2 linked regions of the Homo sapiens genome follow. The protein of the gene in region 1 interacts with the protein of each later gene in a pairwise test. Each region holds a gene or a part of one and is shown in the gene's direction. Other genes may lie near its edges.

What was found. The genes of interacting proteins can lie anywhere in the genome.
Region 2: the proteins of DLGAP3 (region 1) and SHANK2 interact in a two-hybrid assay, tested with the Homo sapiens proteins (one study listed by BioGRID).

Annotation. Positions count from the first base shown.
Region 1 is NC_000001.11:34,864,188-34,870,956, reverse strand, and holds the end of DLGAP3 (disks large-associated protein 3), read left to right. Parts: intron 1-1,867; coding exon 1,868-2,352; intron 2,353-3,329; coding exon 3,330-3,421; intron 3,422-3,765; coding exon 3,766-3,909; intron 3,910-4,655; coding exon 4,656-4,874; 3' UTR 4,875-5,521; downstream 5,522-6,769. UniProt on the Homo sapiens protein: May play a role in the molecular organization of synapses and neuronal cell signaling. Could be an adapter protein linking ion channel to the subsynaptic cytoskeleton. May induce enrichment of PSD-95/SAP90 at the plasma membrane.
Region 2 is NC_000011.10:70,478,771-70,486,824, reverse strand, and holds part of SHANK2 (SH3 and multiple ankyrin repeat domains protein 2), read left to right. Parts: coding exon 1-1,511; intron 1,512-8,054. UniProt on the Homo sapiens protein: Seems to be an adapter protein in the postsynaptic density (PSD) of excitatory synapses that interconnects receptors of the postsynaptic membrane including NMDA-type and metabotropic glutamate receptors, and the actin-based cytoskeleton.

The DNA of each region.
Region 1 (6,769 bases):
TTATATCTAATACATATATTTTAAATACATACACACATACACATTGGATGACCTAGATGGAGGGTGAGTGACAAAGGCACACAGTGAGAAAGCCAGCATTAGAACTCAGAGCTAACTCCTGGCCCCGTGCTCTTCCTCTGCAGGGTACTGATGGAGGCAGAGGTATCTGAAAGGAGGCCAGTCTAATCATCAGGGCAGATGGTGATGCAAACCTTGACCAGGGCAGGACAGGGCAGACACTGAGGGGAAGACTGTGTGGGAGGCAATGAGGATATGTTCTCTCTCCTTCTCCCTCTCTGGGTGGGGGTTGGGACATAGGGCTCGTTGGAGACTGCACATGAGTGCATCTCTCCTTCCTGGGTCCTGCAGCATCCTTCTGGGCCTGGTTTCTATGGCAACAGGCTCCCAGCAGGCAGCCTGCCAGCTGGAGAGAAGTAGGCAGGCAGGCAGGGAGAGAAGGCCTGGGCAGCAAGAGAAAGGCTGAAGTTGCGGGGGTTGGGAGAGTCTCTTGGGGAGGTGGAGGGACCCTAGAGCTGGGCCCACAATCCCTTCTGACCATGTAGGGGTGGAGGTAGCTCAGGACACACAGGCTTTTCTTTTGTGGTCCTTGAATTTCCAAACCTTGATCTTCTGTTTATCCCCCACCTCCCACATCTCCTGACTCCCACTTCTTAAAGTATTGCCTGGTCCCAACCTCATGCATCTTAAGCGGCCACTGACTTCTTTATAGAAAAGAACTCTGAATTCAGGGAAAAAATGAAAACGGCCAGTTGACTTTTTGGTTTGCATAAGATTTGCATATTATTAACTCAAAGACAAGAAATTTCCAGGCCCTATGTCATTCCTGCAAACAACTTAATTCAGCTCCACTGGCACTGACTTACTGTGTCTGGCCAGGCTCTGGGCTGAGCCATCGGGGTCCCTAGAGAAGTCCTCCCAGCTGCAGGCCCACTCCACCTCCAGCTGCTCCAAGGCATTTCTTCCTGTGATGTTCTAGCAGCTGGTGCAGTGGGAAGTGCTTGGACTGTGGAGCCCAGCAGCGCTGAGTCCAAATCCTGGCTCTGCTACTTTGAAGCTGGGTTTACTTAGTTTACTCATCTCTAGGTAGAGCTGAGGACACTCTAGTGCAGCTGGTGTAAACTAGCATAGACATAGAATTTGTTAAAATATTGAAATACTTCGGCCAGGCGTGGTGGCTCACACCTGTAATCCCAGCACGTTGGGAGGCCAAGGCGGGTGGATAACCTGAGGTCGGGAGTTCGAGACCAGCCTGACCAACATGGAGAAACCCTGTCTCTTCCAAAAAGAGACAAAAGGCGCATGCCTGTAATCCCAGTTACTCGGGAGGCTGAAGCAGGAGAATCGCTTGAACCCGGGAGGCGGAGGTTGCGGTGAGCCGAGATCGCGCCATTGCACTCCAGCCTGGGCAACAAGAGCAAAACTCCATCTCCAAAAAAAAAAAAAAAAAAAAAAAAATTGAAATATCTTCTGCCTTCACTGGTAAAGAGCCACCACCCTGGCTCCTCCCTGACCCCTCTAGCCCACCCCACAATCTAGCCTCTCCAGGGCACTGCTGCAGCATTTTGGTCTGTGCCTGCTCTGCCTGGTATATGCCAGCATCTGCTCTGTCCATGGACTGAACTGGTTGCTAAATAGCTTGGATATCACCCCTATCTAGAGGCAGTGCAATAGGTAGGTATATTATGTACGTAGCTGTTGCAAGGACCAATATATTTAAAGTGCATAGGTTAATGTCCATCACTTTGTAGGTTCCCTTTCTCATTCCCTTCCTTTTTTTTGCTTGGGGTGGGGGTGAGAGCTGGCATGAGCCTGGGCAATGGGGGATGACAGCCACCCCTCTCCCCAGGCGAGCAAGGTTCAAGCGCTCCAATAGTGTGACGGCTGGCGTGCAGGCAGACCTGGAGCTGGAGGGCCTGGCAGGCCTGGCCACGGTGGCCACAGAAGACAAGGCCCTGCAGTTTGGACGCTCCTTCCAGAGGCACGCCTCTGAGCCCCAGCCTGGGCCCCGGGCCCCCACCTACTCAGTCTTCCGCACGGTCCACACGCAGGGCCAGTGGGCCTACCGCGAGGGCTACCCACTGCCGTACGAGCCGCCGGCCACCGATGGGTCGCCCGGCCCTGCCCCCGCCCCCACCCCCGGCCCTGGGGCCGGCCGCCGTGACTCCTGGATAGAGCGCGGTTCACGTAGCCTCCCCGACTCAGGCCGCGCATCCCCCTGCCCACGCGACGGCGAGTGGTTCATCAAGATGCTGCGGGCAGAGGTGGAGAAGCTGGAGCACTGGTGCCAGCAGATGGAGCGTGAGGCGGAGGACTATGAGCTACCCGAGGAGAGTGAGTCACGGCATCGGAACAAGGGGACTCTGGGGACCATGGCCTCGTGTGTGCTCAGGAGACCCTGATGGGGGTGGCTGGGGCTGCAGTGTAACAGGAGGCCCCTTCGGTTGGTGCCTCACTGGTCTTCTGCACTGGAGCGTGGCGGGTCAACATCGGCAGCAAGACATGCTGGGAGCTCTTGAAAGGGAGCAGGGTGCACATGGTGCAGCTTTAGAGGCCAGGGCTGGGACTGCAGACACTGCAGGCCAAAGGGCTGGGCCTTCTATGGATGGCTGCTAGTCCAAATCACCAAGTTTATGGGGACTAAGGGAACTCCGTTCAGATCTGGACTGGTGTGGGGATCCAGGTGGTGCGACCAAGATTACAGAGAGGGAGGCAGTTCACAATGTCAGATCCTGTCTGAGGCACAGAAGAGGGAGATTCAGCCAGGGAGATGTGGCCCTGGCCCGAGGGAGAGCATGGCCCTTCCTGTAAGTCAGATCCACTGGGAGACACAGTCTTACCCCAGAATCTCTGAGTTGAGGGGACAGTGGCTATGAAGATGTGTTATGTACATGAAATTACTTGGTCATTCTTAAAGAGCCAAGGAGTCTTGCATGCACTGGGGAGTGATGAACAAAGCTTAGCCAGTGGGTGGTCATTGAGCTAATGCCCTGGCCAAGGCTATAGGGCTAGGCTGGGGCTGGTTTCCGTCTGTTCTCTGATACGGGAGGGAGAAAGGATAAAGAAGGATGAGCACTCAAGAAATGTAGGCTGTATGAAGGAGGGAACATCAGTGTCTGAGGATACAGTCTTGGTGTAGTGGAGCGAGAACTTGTTAGGAACTTGAGGATGGGATGGGGCTGGGGCTGGAGGAGACTGATGGATACACAGTGCCAAGCAACCGAGGGGTCAGCGTCATTCAGGGCAGACTTCGTGGAGGCTGGGGAAGGAGATGCATCATTTCCCTCCCTGAATTTCCTTCTGCTTTCTAGTCCTGGAGAAGATCCGCAGTGCTGTGGGCAGCACACAACTTCTCCTGTCCCAGAAGGTTCAGCAGTTCTTCCGGCTGTGTCAGCAAAGCATGGTGAGTGCCCATAGTAGTAGATCCTACCAGATACATGTGACCCAGAGTGTGTGTGTGCTGGAGGTGAGACAGGCAGGTGACCCAGAGTGAGTGTGTACCAGAGGTGAGACCAGGCCTGCATGCCTTCTGGGGTAGCTGTGAGTCTTGTGCCTGGAGGTAGGACCAGGTGTTTGTGCACAAGAAGGGGAGTCCTGGGCTCGCTCTTGTCCCCCTGTCTCCCAGCCCCCACCCACTCTCCCAGGCTGAGCTTCCTGGCAGTAAGGGTGGATAGGACTTTCTCTTGTCCTGGCTGGGGCTCAGACCTCCTTGACCAATCACTTTCCCTCCATCTTCCTCTGTTGCAGGATCCCACTGCGTTCCCTGTGCCCACCTTCCAGGACCTGGCGGGTTTCTGGGACCTCCTACAGCTCTCCATCGAGGATGTGACCCTCAAGTTCCTGGAGCTACAGCAACTCAAGGCCAACAGCTGGAAACTCCTGGAGCCTAAGGTGGGGCTGGGGTGCCTTCAGGCAAAGAGGCCAGACTCTGGGAAATTCCCCTCCCCAGAGAGGTGGAGGGTGGGACGAACAAGGGGGCAGGGGAAGGGATCCATGGGCAGCAAGGGCAGCCTTGGACAGGTGATAGGTGACCATCCCCTTCCAGAGTGACCACGCTCGTGGCCACTGCCGTCTGCTTGGCCCCAGTGCTCATCACTGCTTGAGCTGCCAGAACCCCAAGGCTTCCTCAGCGCGGGGGAGCGGGGTTGGGGGGGTGGCGGCGGCTGCAGCTGGAGAGAGCAAAAGTAGACCTTACGGAAGGACAGACTGTCCTCAGTTCGGGCCTAGGCATCGACGGCAGAGCCTTGAGGGTCCCCTCAGCCGCCAGGTCCCTGGACCTTGTCTGCGATGAGGGCCAGAGGCCTGGTATGTGCACCCTCATTGCGGAGCCTGGGTCGGGAACTCCCTCCTTCGGGTCGGGACCCGGAGTGAAAAACCGGCTCTGCTGCGAGCTGTTGAGAACGGCGCCACCAGGGGGCGCTCGAACGCGCCGCGCTTTGGTGGAAAATGTGGGGATTTGACCTTGTCGGAACAGGAGCACCTGGGGCTTCAGGTCACGGGATCCGTGGCGGATTCTGAGCGCCATCGCGTTCGGAGCCACGCGGTCGTCAGCACTCTGGGCGCGGGGGTGCGGGGGCGGACACCTGGGTGTTGGGATGGTTCGGCGCCCCAGCTCAGCGACGCCCTCTGCCCCGCAGGAGGAGAAGAAGGTCCCTCCGCCGATACCAAAGAAGCCCCTGCGGGGCCGGGGCGTGCCGGTGAAGGAGCGCTCCCTGGACTCCGTGGACCGGCAGCGGCAGGAAGCGCGCAAGCGGCTCCTGGCGGCCAAGCGCGCCGCTTCCTTCCGCCACAGCTCGGCCACCGAGAGCGCCGACAGCATCGAGATCTACATCCCCGAGGCCCAGACCAGGCTGTGACCGGTCCGGCCCGCCCAGCCCGGCCCGGGCCCGCGGTTCTCCACCCGTACTGTACACCCAGCGTCGAGGTCACTGTGAACGCGGGCCGCCCCGTGCGCCCGCCCCACCGGCACCGGACGCCCCGGCCCCCGGGCCCGTCACACTCTCGTGGGTTTTTTACCTTCCTGATCCCACGCGAAGGCGCCCGGGCTGGGCAGGGGGCCGTGCCTCTCCGCCCTGCGCCCCTCACCTGGATCCCCTGCCCACCTGGTCCGACGCTTTGTCCCCACCTCCTCCCCATGGGCACCATCTCTGCCATTCTTTCCCCCACGGGCCAGGCCGGGCCGGGTCCCTCATCTGGGCTCTGCGTCCCCCCCTCCCCCACCCCGCGGGGCTGGGCTTCGTGGGGATCAAGCTTCGTGGCTTTTTATGAAGAATCCCGAACCCTGCCTAGGAGCCCGCCCCACCCTCCCAGGGGCTCCATCCTCAGCCCTCTGCCCACTGGGCCCAGGGACCACAGTGGCTGGACCAACCCAGGACCAGGGCGCCTGGGCCTCTCCCCTTTCCCAGCGGCTGGGGAGGGGAGATGGGGGCTTCCCCTCACCACACCTGTGGCTGTTCCCACATCCCCTTGAATATCCCAGGAAAAATAAAACGGCAGAACTGCACTCGAGCCAGCTGCTCTCTCCAGAAGAGGCCACCTCCGTCCCGTGTGTGGGAGGACGGGGGTGAAGGGAGAAGGGACCGGGAGCCCACTCTCTTGGTTTGGAGATAGCAGGGGTTGCCTGAGCTCCTTCCAGGGATGGGCCAGCTGGTGGAAAGGAGATTCGGCCCCCTGATGCCCACAGTAAGGGCCTGGACCCTCCTGGAGGGGCCCAGGTGGGGTGAAGAGGGGGAGGGTGCCAAGCTCTCCGTTCTTCCTATTTCGGTGTATCCCGTTCTGCCTCCCAGTCCGCAGGGTTCCCCCAGAGAGGGAAGTCCGGAGCTCGCCGGGCACGCAGCATGTGCTCAATAAACCGGGAGTGTGGTTATTGTTAGGTATTGACAAATAATTGGTTTCCCTTCCCCTAGGGGCACAATGTTCCTTCTGCTCCAGTCATTCCTGATCAGCAGCAGAAAATCTTCAGTCCTGCCGCATTTTCTGATGCCTCCTATGGGTGGCCACCTTGGTGGAGGCTGGGGTGGGGGAAGAGGAAGTACAAAGAACAGAGCTCTCCTGGGAAGCTAAATGGCAACCAGAACCTAGTATCGATGGCTTTATTGAGTGGTCAGTGTGGGTCAGGCAAGGGGTGAGTGCTTTACATGAATGTGGCTGGTCCTTACAATAGAAGAGAAAGCCAAAGCTCAGGGCAGGTTACAAGACCTGTCTGAGGTCACAGGACTAAATGTGGTGGACCCAGGTCTAATGCCAAATCATGAGCTTTTAGCTTTGCAGGCTTCTTAGACCAGAGAGGGCTGATGGCAGTCTCCACCCAGAAAGCCCCTTTCCACTCCTTGAGCAGTCCTTTGGGTTGGTGTGTCACCTCCAGGCAGGAGGAAAAGCCTTCAGGATTGGCTGCTTTTCTGGGCCACACTGGGTCAGCTAATTCTTCTCATTCATTTATCCAGCAGACATTTATCACTTTTGGGCGCCACAGGAATAGCCCTGAACAAGATGTAGTTTCTACCCTTAATGGAACTTATGGTCATATGGGAAAAACAGACAAATAAGCAAGCAGTTAAAATACAGGAGTAAGTGCCAGAAAGATGATTAGAGATTAGCTGCTGAAGGAGGGCCAGGGCTGGGAAGAATGTTCCAAGATCAGGGAACAGCTGTGCAAAGGCTTGGAAGAGGAAGAGACATTGGGAGCACAGAGACTTGATTATATCAGTGTTTGGGTCTCATTGAGGCAGGTGGCCTGGGTCTTGTGGGCTGT
Region 2 (8,054 bases), on another chromosome or scaffold:
TTCGTGGGTGGCGCCGAGGCCAGTGCTCCGGGTGAGGCTGGGAGGCCGCTGAATTCCACGTCCAAAGCCCAGGGGCCCGAGAGCAGCCCAGCAGTGCCCTCCGCGAGCAGCGGCACAGCCGGCCCCGGGAATTATGTCCACCCACTCACAGGGCGGCTGCTTGATCCCAGCTCCCCGCTGGCCCTGGCACTCTCCGCAAGGGACCGAGCCATGAAGGAGTCTCAACAGGGACCCAAAGGGGAGGCCCCCAAGGCCGACCTCAACAAACCTCTTTACATTGATACCAAAATGCGGCCCAGCCTGGATGCCGGCTTCCCTACGGTCACCAGGCAGAACACCCGGGGACCCCTGAGGCGGCAGGAGACGGAGAACAAGTACGAGACCGACCTGGGCCGAGACCGGAAAGGCGATGACAAGAAGAACATGCTGATCGACATCATGGACACGTCCCAGCAGAAGTCGGCTGGCCTGCTGATGGTGCACACCGTGGACGCCACTAAGCTGGACAACGCCCTGCAGGAAGAGGACGAGAAGGCAGAGGTGGAGATGAAGCCAGACAGCTCGCCGTCCGAGGTGCCAGAAGGTGTTTCCGAAACCGAAGGTGCTTTACAGATCTCCGCTGCCCCCGAGCCCACCACCGTGCCCGGCAGAACCATCGTCGCGGTGGGCTCCATGGAAGAGGCGGTGATTTTGCCATTCCGCATCCCTCCTCCCCCTCTGGCATCCGTGGACTTGGATGAGGATTTTATTTTTACAGAGCCATTGCCTCCTCCCCTGGAATTTGCAAATAGTTTTGATATCCCCGATGACCGGGCAGCTTCTGTCCCGGCTCTCTCAGACTTAGTGAAGCAGAAGAAAAGCGACACCCCTCAGTCCCCTTCGTTGAACTCCAGCCAACCAACCAACTCTGCAGACAGCAAGAAGCCAGCCAGTCTTTCAAACTGTCTGCCTGCCTCATTCCTGCCACCCCCTGAAAGCTTTGACGCCGTCGCCGACTCTGGGATCGAGGAGGTGGACAGCCGGAGTAGCAGCGACCACCACCTCGAGACGACCAGCACTATCTCCACCGTGTCTAGCATCTCCACCCTGTCTTCCGAAGGTGGAGAGAATGTGGACACCTGCACAGTCTATGCAGATGGGCAAGCATTTATGGTTGACAAACCCCCAGTACCTCCTAAGCCAAAAATGAAGCCCATCATTCACAAAAGCAATGCACTTTATCAAGACGCGCTCGTGGAAGAAGATGTAGATAGCTTTGTTATCCCCCCGCCCGCTCCCCCGCCCCCGCCGGGCAGTGCCCAGCCTGGGATGGCCAAGGTTCTCCAGCCAAGGACCTCCAAGTTGTGGGGCGACGTCACAGAGATCAAAAGCCCGATTCTCTCAGGCCCAAAGGCAAACGTTATTAGTGAATTGAACTCTATCCTACAGCAAATGAACCGAGAGAAATTGGCAAAGCCGGGGGAAGGACTGGATTCACCAATGGGAGCCAAGTCCGCCAGCCTCGCTCCAAGGTAAGTCCGCGGTTGGTGCACATGCACACCGCTCTGCGTGCACTGTCCCTGCTGACCAGGAAAGGCCCTCGGGTAGCAGCCCCAGCGGACACGAAGAGGGGAATTCGTAAAGCCTGTGTGGGCCACGTCTGTTAATGCAGTAACACTTCTTTTTCTCATGCTCCTGGACTCCGGGATAGCCGAGTAATGATCACAGCCATCCTGGTGGGACACAGCACTCCTTCATAAAGACTTGTAATGAAATGAGGTTGCTGGAAGCCCTCCTCACCTTGGCTTCCAAAGAGAAGCTCTACTCTCTCTTCTGTGCCCTCCAGATCTCTGCCAGGACCACCTAGAAGGCCGTTTAGAGCCTCGCCAAAGCCCAAACCAAGCTTCGAGTTGGTTGCAGGAGACTAGCTGCCCCAAGAGGGCAGCGAGTGGGTGGGCGGTGGGTGCAGGTGTCTGAATACACGTGTGGGTTCTTCTTCCCCTCCCATCACTACCAGGTTTGCGGGCTTGGGAGGCACAGGGTCATGGCTGTACTGGTGAACTCTAAGTGCAGTACATTCTTCCCTGCCAGCCCATCCTGTCCCAGGGGCAGAAGCCTCTAGCTGTGTCCATGTCAGCCCTTCACAGTATTGTGCAGGGTTTACATTATTTCCATTGGAACTGAACGTAGAATAAGTCAGGAGTCATTTCTAGACGCAACCAGAGGGCTCTATCTGAGGCTGTCTGGAAGGAGCCTATATTTGATCATTCTTGCACTGCTATAAAGAAATAGCTGAGACTGGGTAATTTATAAAAAAATGAGGTTTAATTGGCTCGAGTTCTGCAGGCTATATGGGAAGCATGATGTTGGCTTCTGCTTGGCTTCTGGAGAAGCCTCAAGAAACTTTCAGTGATCACCAAAGGGGGAGCAAGAGGGAGTCGGGGGAGGTACCACAGTCTATTTAAACAACCTGATCTCATGAGAGCTCACTATGTACAGTAGCCAGGGAAGATGGTGCTAAACCGTTCATGAGAACTCCCCCACCATGATCTGATCACCTCCCACCAGGCACCTCCTCCAACACTGGAGACTACAATTTCACATATGAGATTTGGGTGGGAACACAGATCCAAACCGTATCAGGGCTCAGCAGTCTGTGGCTTTGGGGAGCCCCATTGGCTCCCGTGATGGCTTATGGTTCTTGGTTCTCCTTCCCTGTGGTGTGCACCATTTTGCTGTTCCCCAGGTGGCAGCATCTTCAGTCTCTCCCACTGATATTTGATCTTGGGTTTCATCATTTTGACTAATGAAGCCTCTCTCCATACCCCTGCTGGGCAGGCATTTGATTTAAGCCACTCAGTGCATTAATCAGTGACATCACATACAGCTGGGGCTCAAGATGCAGACTGAGAGCCCCAATTTTCCCAGTTATTTTTCAGTGTGGATGTAAATAAATGACTTGGATGTCATCTATTACTCTAAAGGAGTATCGATAGGCTGGCATTGGTATAGAGAAGCACAGTTACACTGCAGACATTCAGACAGTGCCTCCAGTCAAGGAGAAAGTCTAAGAATTATGTACGTATACACCTACAAGTACACTCAACAGCCTCCAGGAATTTTGAGAAAGGGTGTTGCTTTGCCGCTCAGGCTGGAGTGCTGTGACGTGATCACGGCTCATTGCAGCCTTGCAGCCTAGACCTCCTGGGCTTAAGCAATCCTCACACCTCACCTAGCCTCCTGAGTAGCTAGGACAATAGACGCATGCCACCACACCCAGCTATTTTTTTTTTTTTTTTTTTTTTTTTTGGTAGAGATGAGGTCTCACCATGTGTCCCAGGCTGGTCTCGAACTCCTGGGCTCAAACGAACCACTCACCTCAGCCTCCCAAAGTGCTGGGATTGCAGGCATGAGTCACTGCACTGGGCCAAAAATCTGAAAAACTGACTAGTTTAACCCTTCCCCATTACATACTAATGTGGCTCTTCCGTCATTACTCTATGTGGAAGCAATAATTAAAGAGGCCTTATCTTAGTGTTTCACATTTTTACAAAACACTTTCTCATGGGTGGGTAATTTTTATGACAACTGGGGAGCAGGTATGAGTCACACCCATTTTTCAGAGGATAAGTGGCTTGTCCACATACACAGCCAGCAGGAGGCAGAGCTGGGACACAGGCTGGGGTTTCCTGACTCTCACTTCCCCTTGTAAGCAATGTCTGCAGTAAGGAAGGAGCTGGAAGGGAATGGCTCTAGGGCTGGAGGAAGGAATCCACTGTTCAGGTCAGCAGGGCATCCTGCACCAAGCTGTGCTCCCCTGAGCACTCCACTCGGGGAGTCCAGGGACCCCGTCCATGGAGACCTCTCCCTGAGTGGCAGCTGGACAGCTCATCCCCTCTACTCGTCTTCAGGCTGGGCCAGCTCCTGGGGTGCCCACAGGGGAGTGGGACCCCAACTTGCAGCGTCTCTAGGGTTTCTCTGCCCTGCATTTCTCCAGGGGGACCCTGAGAGGGGGCTGGCTCAAAGCAGACTTCATAGGGCAGAATCCTGCTGTACTCTGAAGGAGAGCAGCTGCATACCACCGCCGACCCACGCGTGAGTGCCAAGAACGGCCGCCTCCCAGCTGTCCTGTTATTTATAGCCCGGCTCTCTTACAGTAAGAACAGGAGCCCACACCTATGACACAAAGCATTCACCAAACGCCAGGCACTACATTCCACGGCACCCCTGAGCCAGGGCCTGTAATTTTTCCCACTGTGTGAACAAGGAAGCAGAAGGCAGGGCGGTGAAGCTACTGAGCCGAGGCTACTTCACAGGAAGACGCGGAACTAGACCTCCAACCCATGGAGCTGGCTCAGGGTTTGACTCCTCACCTTGTGGGAGCCAGGGACTGCCTTGGAAGGAATGACCAACTGGCAAACCGAACACCTGCAAGGCTGAGACTGCCGCGGGCGGGGCTGCTCTCAGGCCTCTGACTGTCCTTAGGCCAAGCTCTTTGGTCAGCAAGAGGCTAATAGCAGGCTTAGTCACTAGGAGGTCACCCTGCGGCCGATAACAGCAGGCTTAGTCACTAGGGGTTCACTGGCACTGCCAAGCTCCCAGAGGCCATGTCTGTTCCCTTCTTGCTCCCGGCCAAGGGTTACACTTTACACTCAGAGTTGGACTAGAAACAGGATGGCCTGAGGCCAGAGGACAAAGATGAAGAGCATTCACTGTAGGCACTAAACTAGGCTCAATCCTCTCCCTCGCCCTTGCTTCTCGGATCTAATAACCTCACCAGGCTGAGCACTTGGGACAAAGCCCCCATGGAGGTGCGCCACGGCCACGGGACACACTGACAAGGACAAGTGGGGGGCAGTCAGAACCACCACTGGGGGGGGGTCCAGGACGGAGTTGCCAGGGCACCAGAGCTGTCCCCCTTGCCGTGAGGGCTGTCTCCTCTCAGCCACAGACCTATCTCTCAGCATGTCTCCTTTGCTGGGCGTGGTCTTCACTGATGGGCCCTGGGCATTTGATCATCTGAGGATCAGAGGGAGCCTTAAGAACTCTCACCTGAGTTCACCGCCTGGGCGACTCACCACCACCTTTAAATGCATCTAAAAATTAAGAGCTGTGAATGGCCCTGGGCAAAATGAGGCACGAAATTGGATGAAGGGAATTCCTACCGAGGAAAAAGAAATGAGTTTTTCTAGGGAAAATTGAAAACCAGCCATGCTTTTTGAAATGACAGATAAGCAGTGGTGTAAAAATCCCATTTCCATAGAAACAAGTTTTGACTGCCCAAGAAAGGGACAATTTTTAGAGCTGTTCCTCAAATGTTCATTCATGAAATGGGCAGAAACCTCAGCTGAACTTGACCCTTTTAAAGTTCCTCTCATCCTTGGATTCTTCCTTTCTTTTCACTTCTTGCAAGAATCCAGGATGGGATCAAAGGAAGCAGCTGAAGATTAAACAACTAGATCCTTGTTTTCCTTGGGTATGTTTGATTTAACTTTAGCCGTGAATGAGTCTCTGATGCTCAAAGCTCTTCCCTGAAATCAAGGATGACATGGAATTTGCAGGCGTCTTAATTACAAATACGCCGACGAAAGGAAGATGATGAAGTAGTTCTCTTTAGTACATAATGTTAAAAGAGAAAAAAGTACATCATATTAGAGGCATCTCCCAGGGTGATCTGAAAACACCCTGCCAAGAATGGAGGCGTCAGTTCTAAGAAAAGTGTTCCAGGACCACCTGGCCTGATTATTCCAGGAGGTAGTCTCATCTTTGATCTCAAACTGGATCAAAGTGAAGGAAACTGGTTTGGGGAAGGAAGAGTGAGTGTGTCTCTGTGAAGAGTCAGTGGTCCCTCCTCAGCAGAATGCCAAGACAACAGCTGCCAGCCCAGAGGCCTGACAGTGCTGCACGCTGGGGGTCCCAGCACAGGAGCCTGGGGCTGCAAAAGCTCAGAGCCGGAAGCTCCTCAGGTGCAGGCCTAGGAGACTGACTGGACACTCAGACTTGGAATCATGGCCCAGCCCCACTGTCTCCTGAATTCACCAGTCAGGAGTTCACTGAGCTACTTTCTATAAGCCTAGTGCCAGGCTGAGGCTAGAGAGTAACGAGGAATACACCAACAAGGATGCCTGGACCCTCAGAATGGGGCAGCAATTCCGTCACTAATCATTCACTCAACAAAGTTAGGGATTGCCTTTATGTGCCAGGTGCCATGCTGTGCCCAGGATTTATCACTGAACAAGAAAACATTCCAGATGCCCCTCCCTTTGGGGAGCTCAAATTCTCGAGGGGAGAAATGGACAACAAATAATAAGACAAACCCAAACTGTGACAAATGCCACAAAGGAGCCACAACATGCTAATAGGTTAGTGACCAGTGCAGAAAGGGGCTGTGATGCACCAGCAGGTAAAAATAACCACGTGCAGAAGAGAGCCACGGGACACCAGCAGGTTAACCCTGACCACATGCAGAAAGGGCGGACTAGGATGCCCTAGCAGGTTACAGTGAGCATGTGCAGAAAGGGACTGACACTCTGCAAGGAAATGACATTTGAATGACCAGAAATTTAAAAAGGAGCCAACCTTGCAGAAAACCAGGAGTGGAGCATCCCAGGCACGGGACAGAGAGTACAAGGCCCTGAGGCCAGAAAGTGCCTTCTGTGCTCATGAAACCATGGCCAGATGAGGAGGGCTGGGCAGGGCCAGGTCACAAGAGGCTTGCAGGTAATGGGCATGAGCTGAATGGAGTTCCAGATATGGCTGCCTTCAGAGGGCTTCAGCAAAGTCTTGGCATGACCAGACTTTGTTTCCTGAAGATGGCCCAGGCAGCTGTGTGATCAGGTGAATGCACTGGTGGCACAGGGAGGCTGCTGTGGGAGTGTAGGGCCTGCATTCTGGAGACAAGCAGGGAGACTCAAGGGCTAAGTGCCTAAGGAACCCAGGAGAACACAGCAGCTTGCCTGACTTATATGCTTTGACCCAAAACAAACTTGCTATGACCCAGGAGCCCCAGGTGTCATGTGCCCTCCAGCTTTATTGAGAGATACTGACACATACCAGGCGCCGATAGTAAAGCCAGATAAATCTGATGTTCTTTACCATCGCTTCCATGGCAGAGGTCAGCTTCACATTTGCTCTGTATGTGGGGGCAACAGAGCAGTGAGTGTGTGCTTGTGGGGGTCCCCCATGGCTTCTGTTAGGGTGCATGGCCTATAAGAGTTCCCCAGAGTCCCCTCTAGGTCGCCAGCCCTTTGCAGTGGGTGGGGTCCAGAAGGGACCTCGAGATTGGCCTTCGCTTCCCCATGGGATGGATGGGCTTCAGGGAGATTTGTCCTGTGAAACTCCAGGTCCCAGAGGCCCCTGAGGGAGTTCAGGCTACCTGGGATGTGAGCTCAGGCGAGTTTTCCTCCCGAGGCCCCTGCGCCTGCTGCCTCACGGTACCTGCCTCCCCTTCCCAAGGCCTCCAGTCCCTACTGGGCTCTCTGCAGTATTATCCTGACAGCCTCTTGATTTTCAAATAACTTTGGGTTGTTAAAAAGTTATCTCTGCCCAGCTGGTCCCAGAGCACAGACTGCTTCAAAACTGACTTGGTACTAGAAGCTGCCTCACGGTGTTTTCAGCATCTCAGGACCACTAGGTGGTTTGAGGGTTTCCAGGCCCTGATGGAAAAGTGAATGTGACATCAGTGAATGCGACTGTGGGTGGCTGGGAGCACTAGTCAGGATGTGCGTCCATCGGGGCTGGTACTTGCGGGCGTTGGGCAAGGATGAATGGGAGTGCCTCGTCCTTGCCCATCAACAGGCAAATCTCAAGTCAGAATCTTCCTCCCCATTTTGGACATGAGGCCCTTTTGGCAAAAGCATATCACAGGGTTAATCTCTCTTCCCAAGAGGTGGGCACCTTCTTGATCTTAGCTGCGAACCTCCTGGCCTGAAGACCTGGATTCCTGGTGGAACTGCCGCGGAGCCTCAGGCTGCCTGCCCCACTCCCAGGTCTGGCTCTGTAACTCGGTCAAGTCACTTAACTTTCTGATCTGGGAAAAGGATATATTATCCATCAACACTTCAGTCAACAATTAT